2 linked regions of the Homo sapiens genome follow. The protein of the gene in region 1 purifies or fractionates together with the protein of each later gene. This does not show direct contact. Each region holds a gene or a part of one and is shown in the gene's direction. Other genes may lie near its edges.

The links. The genes of interacting proteins can lie anywhere in the genome.
Region 2: the proteins of SLC26A3 (region 1) and SLC25A51 purify together in Homo sapiens (affinity purification with mass spectrometry; one large-scale study listed by BioGRID and IntAct). This does not show direct contact.

The regions. Positions count from the first base shown.
Region 1 is NC_000007.14:107,792,580-107,797,442, reverse strand, and holds part of SLC26A3 (chloride anion exchanger), read left to right. Parts: intron 1-2,845; 5' UTR 2,846-2,933; coding exon 2,934-3,064; intron 3,065-3,561; coding exon 3,562-3,701; intron 3,702-4,863. UniProt on the Homo sapiens protein: Mediates chloride-bicarbonate exchange with a chloride bicarbonate stoichiometry of 2:1 in the intestinal epithelia. Plays a role in the chloride and bicarbonate homeostasis during sperm epididymal maturation and capacitation.
Region 2 is NC_000009.12:37,890,134-37,894,996, reverse strand, and holds part of SLC25A51 (mitochondrial nicotinamide adenine dinucleotide transporter SLC25A51), read left to right. Parts: intron 1-4,863. UniProt on the Homo sapiens protein: Mitochondrial membrane carrier protein that mediates the import of NAD(+) into mitochondria. Mitochondrial NAD(+) is required for glycolysis and mitochondrial respiration.

The DNA.
Region 1 (4,863 bases):
AGCTCACTGCAACCTCTGCCTCCCGGGTTCAAGCAATTCTCCTGTCTCAGCCTCCCGAGTAACTCAGATTACAGGTGCCCGCCACCACGCCTGGCTAATTTTTGTATTTTTAGTAGAGACAAGTTTTCACTGTGTTGGCCAGGTTGGTCTTGAACCCCTGACCTCAAGTGATCCTCCTGCTTCAGCCTCCCAAAGTGCTGGGATTACAGGCGTAAGCCACCGCGCCTGGCCGGAAAGATTTCTTAAGCTCCCCTGATTCCTACCCTGAGCAGGGCCCTTGCAGGCAGTGCTTGGGTATGAGGAGGAGGCTTTTACTGGCAGGACAGCCAGAGTTCAGGCTCTTGATCCAGCTGGAGGTATAAGAAAGCCCACTAAAGAGACAGCCATAGCCATCCTCAGAGAAGGAAACTGATTAGAAATGAAGTTATATTTCTCCCATCACTGTCATCGGCAAAAAAAATTAAAATAAAAAAAATACAACAGCCAGAAGAATAAAAGTACCTTCAAGATCTTTTTTGGGGAAGACAACTAATAAATTTCTGTGAACTCCTTGAGGAAAGCATGAGTAAAGCAAGCAAAGAGCAGAATCTTTTTTTTTTTTCCTGGCCATAGCAGCATCTGACAGAAGTACAAATGCACAGTGCTGAAGTCTTCTTCATCCTAAGGTTGGCTAGGTTGGTTCCTTCAAAGGATTAAAGCTGTTCTTATAAGATATTCCAGATACCCTTTGTGAGAAATCCAAGATGTCAGAAGTGATTGACCATGGATTAGATCTTAATTATTATTGCCCCAACCATGTTGTTGGTAATCAGCCAAAAAAAGACAAAAATCCATGCTCTGCACAGCAATGCACAAGTCACCTCCACTTTGTGAGCAAGTTCTTCTGACAATGGGAAGTACTGTCTAGTTAGTGGGATTTGACCCCTGAAGTGTGGGTGGAGAGATGGAAGAGGGAATGGAAACAAAAGAGAAAACAAGCACTTGGGAGTGGCAGGGGAGGAGAGGCCCAGAAAGAATAGCAAAGGAGGATCTAAATGTCATAACCGAGGCCCTGGTGGTGCACCTATCAGCAACTTGGGAGGCTGAGGTTGAAGGATTGCTTAAGCCTAGGAGTTTGAGGCCAGCCTGGGCAACATATGAAAGATCCCTGCCTCTACTGAAATATTTTAAAAATTAGCAGGGCATGGTGGGCCACACCTGTAGTCCCAGCTACTCAGGAGACAGGAGGACCGCTTGAGCCTAGGAGTTAAGAGGCCATAGTGAGCTATGATTGCACCACTGCACTCTACCCCAAGCGACAGTGAGATCCTGTCTCTAATAATAATAATAATAATAATAATAATAATAAGGGAGTCATAACTGAGCTCAAAGGAACTCAAATTCTGGAGATCAAGCCAGAGATGTGGGGCAGAAGCAGTATATTGTGGTCAAAAGTGAGTACAGAGGACTTTAGAGGAAACTAGAAAATGGGATGGGAGAGAAAAATGAGTGATCAAAGAGAGGTCAAGTGGGGCCAGCAGTAGAGGCCAGCATCTGATTCCTGGTTATAACTTGAGCTCTGCAAACATGCTGAAAATCCCATAAGGTATATGAGGGCACGGTGTAACAAGATACTATCTAGTGTGAGATAATTCAATTAATCACTGTGATTGAAGCTGAGGAACAAAACTTGGGCATTATGAGTAGTAATACAGAACAAGATTAGAGGGAAAAAATGCTAGCAGTTAGTTGGAATGTTCTTCGATTATGTTTATATTGAACAATAGAGAAGCTGCATGACATAGAAAAGAGAGCAAAGAAGTCTGAAAATGCAGGTACCATTTCTGCCATGTTAACAAGCTGTATGTCCCAAGAAAAAGTATTTCCAATTTAGTGTGGGTTTGGAGTGTGTGTGATTATTTTATCATTTGTAAGAATAAAATAATAATAATAAAATAATAAGGGTAACTGCCTCAAAGAATTGTGAAGGCTAACTTGGTAATGTGCATTTAAACATTTTGTCAAATTGATCTTTTAAGCATAATAGAAACAGGATTGAGATAAGAATTAAAAACTTAAACATTTTGTGTAAAAAATGCTAATAATCAAAATAATAACTACCATTTAGTAAATGCCTATAGTGTGTTGGATGTAAACCAGATGCTTTGGAAACCTTATTTAATCTTCACAATCACCTGAAACTTGAATATCTTTATCCCCATTATACAGGCAAGGCTCAGAGAGGTTAAGGAACTTGCCCAGGATCATTCCTTTAAAAAGACCTTATTACTCACAAATGAAGTAAACAAATAATATTTAGTTTGTTTCATAGTTTCCTTAACTATAAATTGTAAAACTCTAACTCCCAGAAACAATAAGGAAATAACTGAAATAGGCAATACCTTTGAATTTCACAATTTTTTAATTTTACAAGGTAAAAAAAACAAATTTTAAAATTCTGTTGGGTAAATTGGAACAGTCTGGACTGGAGTTGGGGCAATAAAAAAACTTTAAATCTAACCTGTCCCAACACTTAAATGCCTTAACTTTGGAAATATTTCTGGGAAAAAAAGTTGATGAGAATATCTTGCCTTGTAAGTAAAAAATTGACTAATTGATTCATAAACTGAGTCAATTTTGTTACTTTTTGGCAAATTAAAAAATAAAGCTCTTGTTTACTTACCTAAAAGAGCCACGTCCAGCTCACTGGAATAAAACATCGCTGTCGCAAAACACAATCTAGGTCCCTTAATCCTGCCTTTTTTGATCTTAAAAGGTGGTAACATTCAGTTCGGAGCTCACTCATCTGTAAATTGCATCACATTATCTCTGAGTTATTTAAGAAGCAAGCTCTGTTTGGTTTCAGGCATTTTTAACCTGCTAAAGGCAAGAAGAAGTGTTCACCACATAGTTGCAAAGGTCTTCAACTTGCCACAGCCAACAGAAAAATCAAAATGATTGAACCCTTTGGGAATCAGTATATTGTGGCCAGGCCAGTGTATTCTACAAATGCTTTTGAGGAAAATCATAAAAAGACAGGAAGACATCATAAGACATTTCTGGATCATCTCAAAGTGTGTTGTAGGTAAGATATTTTTTAAGGTATTGGCATTAGGAATACATTTTTGAAGCACTTTCCCCTAAATTTTCTAACTTTCCAACTCTCCTTTCTGGCTCTAGTCCACAGCCTACAGTCCTTTCCTCTTTAGTTTCCAAACCTCCTACTCCCTGACAGAGTTGGAAAGGTAGTGTCTAAAATGAACCCCATCTCGGCTTATCAACACGGTCTTTCCAAATCAGACAACTAACAGATGGGGACAGAGGAAAATTCTCATTTGAAATATTGCATGATTTGAGCTGAGGATGACAAATAGGTCTATTATGGTTAAAGAAAAGCAAGCATTTTAAAAAATCCTTTGTTGGTGACCAGAGGGCAGCTGATTATGGGTAAAGAATGTTACTGGGAGTGAAATTACTAGTTTAATCTTTAGCATATTACCATCTTTACCAATTTCCCACCGACAGGTACTAAACTTAAAATTTGATATTAATTGACTGACCTGTGGCTTTCCATGTTTTCAGCTGTTCCCCACAAAAGGCCAAGAGAATTGTCCTCTCTTTGTTCCCCATAGCATCTTGGTTGCCAGCATACCGGCTTAAAGAATGGTTGCTCAGTGATATTGTTTCTGGTATCAGCACAGGGATTGTGGCCGTACTACAAGGTAAAATTTTTTTTAAGTATAATTTATATACAATAAAATTCTTCCTCTGAATGTGTACAGCTCAGGGACTTTTCGTATATTCACTAGGTTGTGCATCTGTCACCACTATCTAATTCTGGAACATTTTCACCACCACCAACCCCTAAAAATCCCTTACCCATTAACTTCACATCCCCCCTACCCTTTCTCTGTGGATTTGCCTCTTCTGCATATTTCATGCAAATGAAATAATACAATACATGGCACTTTGTGTCTGGTTTCTTTCACTCACCGTAATGTTTTCAAGGTTGATCCATATTGTAGCATGTATTGGTACTTCATTCCATTTTATGGACAAATAAGTATTCTGTTGTATGGACATATCACAATTTTTTTATCTGCTCATCGGTTGATGAACATTTGAGTTGTTTCCACTTGGGGGCTATTATGAGTTATGAGTAATGCTATTTTGAACATTTGTGTACAAATATTTGTGTGAGCATGCTTCAATTTTCTTGGGTATATCACTAGGATTGTAATTGCTGGATCATAGGGTAACTCTATATTTAATCATTTGTGGAACTGCTAACTTATTTTCTAAAGTAGCTACACCATTTTACATTTCCACTAGCAGTGTATGAGGGTTCAGATTTCTCCATATCATCAACACTTGTTATTGTCCATCTTTTTTCTTTTAGCTATCCCAGTGAGTGTGAAGTGGTATCTCATTGTGGTTTGCATTTGCATTTCTCTAATGACTAACAATATTGAATATTTTTTCCAGGTGTTTATTGGCCATTTGTATATCTTTTGAAACATGTCTATTCAAAGTTTTTATCCATTTTTAAATTGGGTTATTTGTCTTTTTGTTGTGGAGTTGCAAGTGTTGTTTCTATATTCTGGATACCAGACCCTTGTCAGATATACAATTTGCAGATAACTTTTTTATTCTGTGAATTATTGGTTAACTTTCTTGATAGTATCCTTTGAAGTACACGTTTTTAAATTGTGATTAAGTCCAGTCTATCTGTATTTTTCATTGGGTGCTTATGCCAGGGGTCCCCAGTCCCTGGGCCACAGACCAGTACAGGTCCGTGGCCTGTTAAGAACTGGGCCACACAGCAGGAGGTGAGTGGCAGGTGAGCAAATGAAGCCTCACCTGTATTTACAGCCGCTCCTTATT
Region 2 (4,863 bases), on another chromosome or scaffold:
TGGTACACATACACCATGGAATACTATGCAGGCATAAAAAGAGCAAGATTGTGCCCTTTGCTGGAACATGGATGGAGCTGGAAGCCATTATTCTTAGCATACTAACTCAGGAACAGAAAACCAAATACCACATGTTCTCACTTACAAGTGGAAGCTAAATGATGTGAACTCATGGACACATAGAGAGGAACAACACACACTGGGGCCCATAGGAGGGTGGAGGGTGGGAGGAGGGAGAGGATCAGGAAAGATAACTAATGGGTACTAGGCTTAATACCTGGGTGGCGAAATAATCTGTACAACAAACCCCATGGCACAAGTTTACATAACAAACCTGCACACGTACCTCAGAACTTAAAATTTTTTGTAAAAGGCCAGGCCAGTGGCTCATACCTGTAATCCCTGCACTTTGGGAGGCCAAGGCGGACAGATCACTTGAGCCCAGGAGTTCAAGACCAGCCTGGCCAACAAGTTGATAACCCATCTCTACAAAAATAGAAAAATTAGCCAGGCATGGTGGCGGGCACCTGTAATCCCAGCTACTCGGGAGGCTGAGGCAGGAGAATCAGTTGAACCCAGGAGGTGGAGGTTGCAGTGAGCCGAGATCGCACCACTGCATTCCAGCCTGGGCAACAAAGCAAGACTCTGCCTCAAAAAAAAAAAAAAAGTTAAAAAAAAAGGTGAGTGGGGGCAGGTTTAATTAGACCTTTCCTCTAGACACTCTCTGGAAGGTCTTGGAATTAAAAATGTATATCTTTTGTATACCCACTCACACACTTGGCAAGCTGAATTGTCCACAGAGTTTTCCAAACCTTAATAATACAAAACCATAAAAAAAAACAGCAACCATAAATAGGAGGTAGAATAAATTGTATACAGTGCAGTCATTTCATAGAGTACTGTGCAACCATTCTAAACGCTCAGGTATCTCTGTGCTAATATTAGATTCCAAAATGCATTGTTACATACCTCACTTTTTAAACTTAGTAGTGTGTGTGTGTGTTTCTTTTTAAAATGACGAGTAGGTTGAAGAGGGCAGGGAATAGGGGTGGGTGAGCGTGAACAGAGTCAGGCTGATTGCTGCAGGGTCCCTTGCATTAGTTCAGGTGAGAAGAGACCCGAGTAGGCCAGTGAGCCTGGAGGAGAGGCTCTCTGTGTGTTTAATTGGTTTCCAGCTTTTTTTCTCTATTCATGTAGGTTATACACGTTTCTTCTGTGAATTTTTATTTAAATGATTTTTTGTTGTTACTGGATCTACAAACAGCCCAACTCCAAGGAATCTGGCATCTCTCAGTGGAGCATACAGGTGACTTCATAATCTAACCGCATTAGTAACTGCCAAAATCGGAAGTAATTTCTCTCTGTTTAAAAGGCAGTGAAACAAATTTTCAGAGCAGGTTTCTTCAACTGAACAAAATATTTTGGACCTTAGAGGTGGTATGGCTCTCCTGATCAGGGAGGGACAGTGAAAGGTTTGAGCTCTGACACTGCCCAGCTCTCTGGATACAACCAAGTGACTTTCTTTGAGTGGGGAGAAGTTTCCTGACTCCTTGTATTACCTTCCTTAGGGTAGACTTTGGGCCTGCAGTGACATTAGTCCTAACTTGCTCTTAGGTAAAAAGAGTTCATCTTTTCTAATAGGAACATGACAGCAAAGCAGCTCAAACTCCAAAGAGGCGTTAGGCCATAGATTGTACAGATGTCTACATTTTCTTAATCATAGTCTATATTCTTAGAAAAGGATATACAGATCTTAGTGTAACATACTTAAGTAAAATAGTTTCTTTCATTTGCTTCACAAGAGAAAGCAAAAAAATTTGGCTGGGCACAGTGGCTTACACCTGTAATCCCAGCACCTTGAGAGGCTGAGGCAGTTGGATCACTTCAGCCCAGAAGCTCAAGACCAGCCTGGGCAACATGGTGAAACCTCATCTCTACAAAAAAAATACAAAAATTGGGCCAGGCGCTGTGGCCCACACCTGTAATCCTAGCACTTTGGGAGGCCAAGGCGGGCGGATCACCTGAGGTCAGGAGTTCAAGACCAGCCTGACCAACACAGCAAAAATCTGTCTTTACTAAAAATACAAAAACTAGCTGGGCATGGTGGTGCGCACTTGTAATCCCAGCTACTTGGGAGGCTGAGGCAGTAAAATCGCTTGAACCCAGGAGGCAGAGGTTGCAGTGAGCTGAGATCGTGCTACTACACTGCAGCCTGGGCAACAGAGTGAGACTCCATCTAAAAGAAAAAAAAAAAAATTAACCAGGTGTGGTGGCATGTGCCTGTAGTCCCAGGTACTCAGAGGGCTGAGGTGGGAGAATTGCTTGACCCCAGGAGGTTGAGGCTGCAGGTGAGCCAAGATTGCACTACTGCATTCCAGCCTGGGCAACAGTGAGACACTGTCTCAAAAAAAAAGAAAAAGAAAAAAATATATATATATAATGTAGTATTGTATATATTGTATATATATAATGTAGTATTGTTCAGAGGGTCTTGGGATTTTCCTGAGGGTCCTAACCGGCTTCTCTGTCCTCATCAGCTACCCATCCTTCTCTACCTACGTTGTGCCCCTGCAGGGCATACACAAGTAACCTCCAAGAACGCGATGCCGCTGCTCCTTTAGCCCAACACCTGTGCCTTAGCCTCTGCTGCTCCATTGGCTAAAATGTGCTTCACCCTTATGTGCATAGTGACAGTTATTCAGCTTTCAGAGCCGAGCCCACGGGTCATGTCCTGCCTGTCATTCTCTCCAGACAGCTGATTAATGACCTCCTGCTGTATGGGGCCTTGATACCTTCCATGATTTCATTTATCTCCCTGTTGTCTAATTATTTGCCTGTCTTATCTCCCCTGACATAGGTACCTGACATACGTATGCTATTTAATTTTTACTTTGCGTCTAAATACCATTAAAAATTCAAAATTAATCCTACACTGAACCTTAAACACTTCTTTATTTTTAATAACTTTATGTCTCATCCTGTGGATACATCTTCACTTACACATTGTGTCTTTTACTATTGAGCATTTGTATTCATTATTTGCTGTTAAAAGCCTGGCTGTGACTATCTTATGGCTGAATCTTTTTTTTTTTTTTTTTAAAGTAGTTGTGTGTATATATATATATATAAAATTTTTTTTTTTTTTTTTATCATTCTTGGGTGTTTCTCGCAGAGGGGGATTTGGCAGGGTCATAGGACAATAGTGGAGGGAAGGTCAGCAGACAAACAAGTGAACAAAGGTCTCTGGTTTTCCTAGGCAGAGGACCCTGCGGCCTTCCGCAGTGTTTGTGTCGCTGGGAACTTGCGATTAGGGAGTGGTGATGACTCTTAACGAGCATGCTGCCTTCAAGCATCTGTTTAACAAAGCACATCTTGCACCGCCCTTAATCCATTTAACCCTGAGTGGACACAGCACATGTTTCAGAGAGCACAGGGTTGGGGGTAAGGTCATAGATCAACAGCATCCCAAGGCAGAAGAATTTTTCTTAGTACAGAACAAAATGGAGTCTCCTATGTCTACTTCTTTCTACACAGACACAGCAACAATCTGATTTCTCTGTCTTTTCCCCACATTTCCCCCTTTTCTATTCGACAAAACCGCCATCGTCATCATGGCCCGTTCTCAATGAGCTGTTGGGTACACCTCCCAGACAGGGTGGCGGCCGGGCAGAGGGGCTCCTCACTTCCCAGAAGGGGCTGCCGGGCAGAGGCGCCTCCCACCTCCCGGACGGGGCGGCTGGCCGGGTGGGGGCTGCCCCCCACCTCCCTCCTGGACGGGGCGGCTGGCCGGGCGATGGCTGAATCTTTGTGTACATGTTGTGTGAATTATTTTCTTAATCTGTAGTCTTAGAAGGAAAATTATGGTTGTGTGTGTGTTCCATATTCATTACACATTGGTGGCTCTGGCAGATATACGCCCCTTAGGAACTAATGCTATCTGATTCTTTCTGTGCCTCAGCTCTACGCTTTCTACTTTGAGAGTGATCATGGTTCTCTTTAACATCTTTTGTCCTGAGTGTTGAGCAGTTCACCACAGCATGTGTGTAGTATGAGGAGGGAAAAAAAACTTAAGGAACTTGGCAATTTTTTGTTCCAAGTGAAAGACCTAGACGGTTTTTTGTTGTTTTTATTATTTCCCATTGAAACTCTTAAATATGGTTTGGATTGTTTCCACCTCTTGGCTGTTGTGAATAGTACTTCTGTGAACGTGGGTGTACAAGGTCTTTGAGACTGCGCTTTCAATTGTTTTGGTTATATCCCCAGAAGTAGGATTGTTGGATCGTATGTTCTTTTTTTTTTTTAAAGCAGGGTATTACTCTGTCACCCAGGCTGGAACGCAGTGACATGAACACAGCTCACTGCAGCCTGAACTTCCTGGGCTCAAGAGGTCCTTCTCCCTCCACCTTCCCAGTAGCTGGTGTACGCCATCATGCCCCAAAAATTTATTTTGATTTTTGTAGAGGCAGAGTCTCACTATGTTGCCCAGGCTGGGCACAAATTTGTGGCCTCATGCAATCCTCCCACCTTGGTCTTCCAAAGTGCTGGGATGACAAGTGTGAGCCACTGCGCCTGACTACTATTTTTAATTTTTAAATTATTGTTATTATTTTTAGAAACAAGAGTCTTGCTCTGTTGCCCAGGCTGGAGTGCAGTGGTGCAATCATGGCTCACTGCAGCCTTGACCTCCCTGGCTCAATTGATCCTCCCACCTCAGCATCCCACATAGCTGGGGCTACAGGCATGTGCTACCATGCCCAGCTAATTTTTAACTTTTTCATAGGCATGGGATCTCTCTATGTTGCCCACACTGGTCTCAAACTCGTGATTCAAGCAATCCTCCTGCCCCAGCCTCCCAAAGTGCTG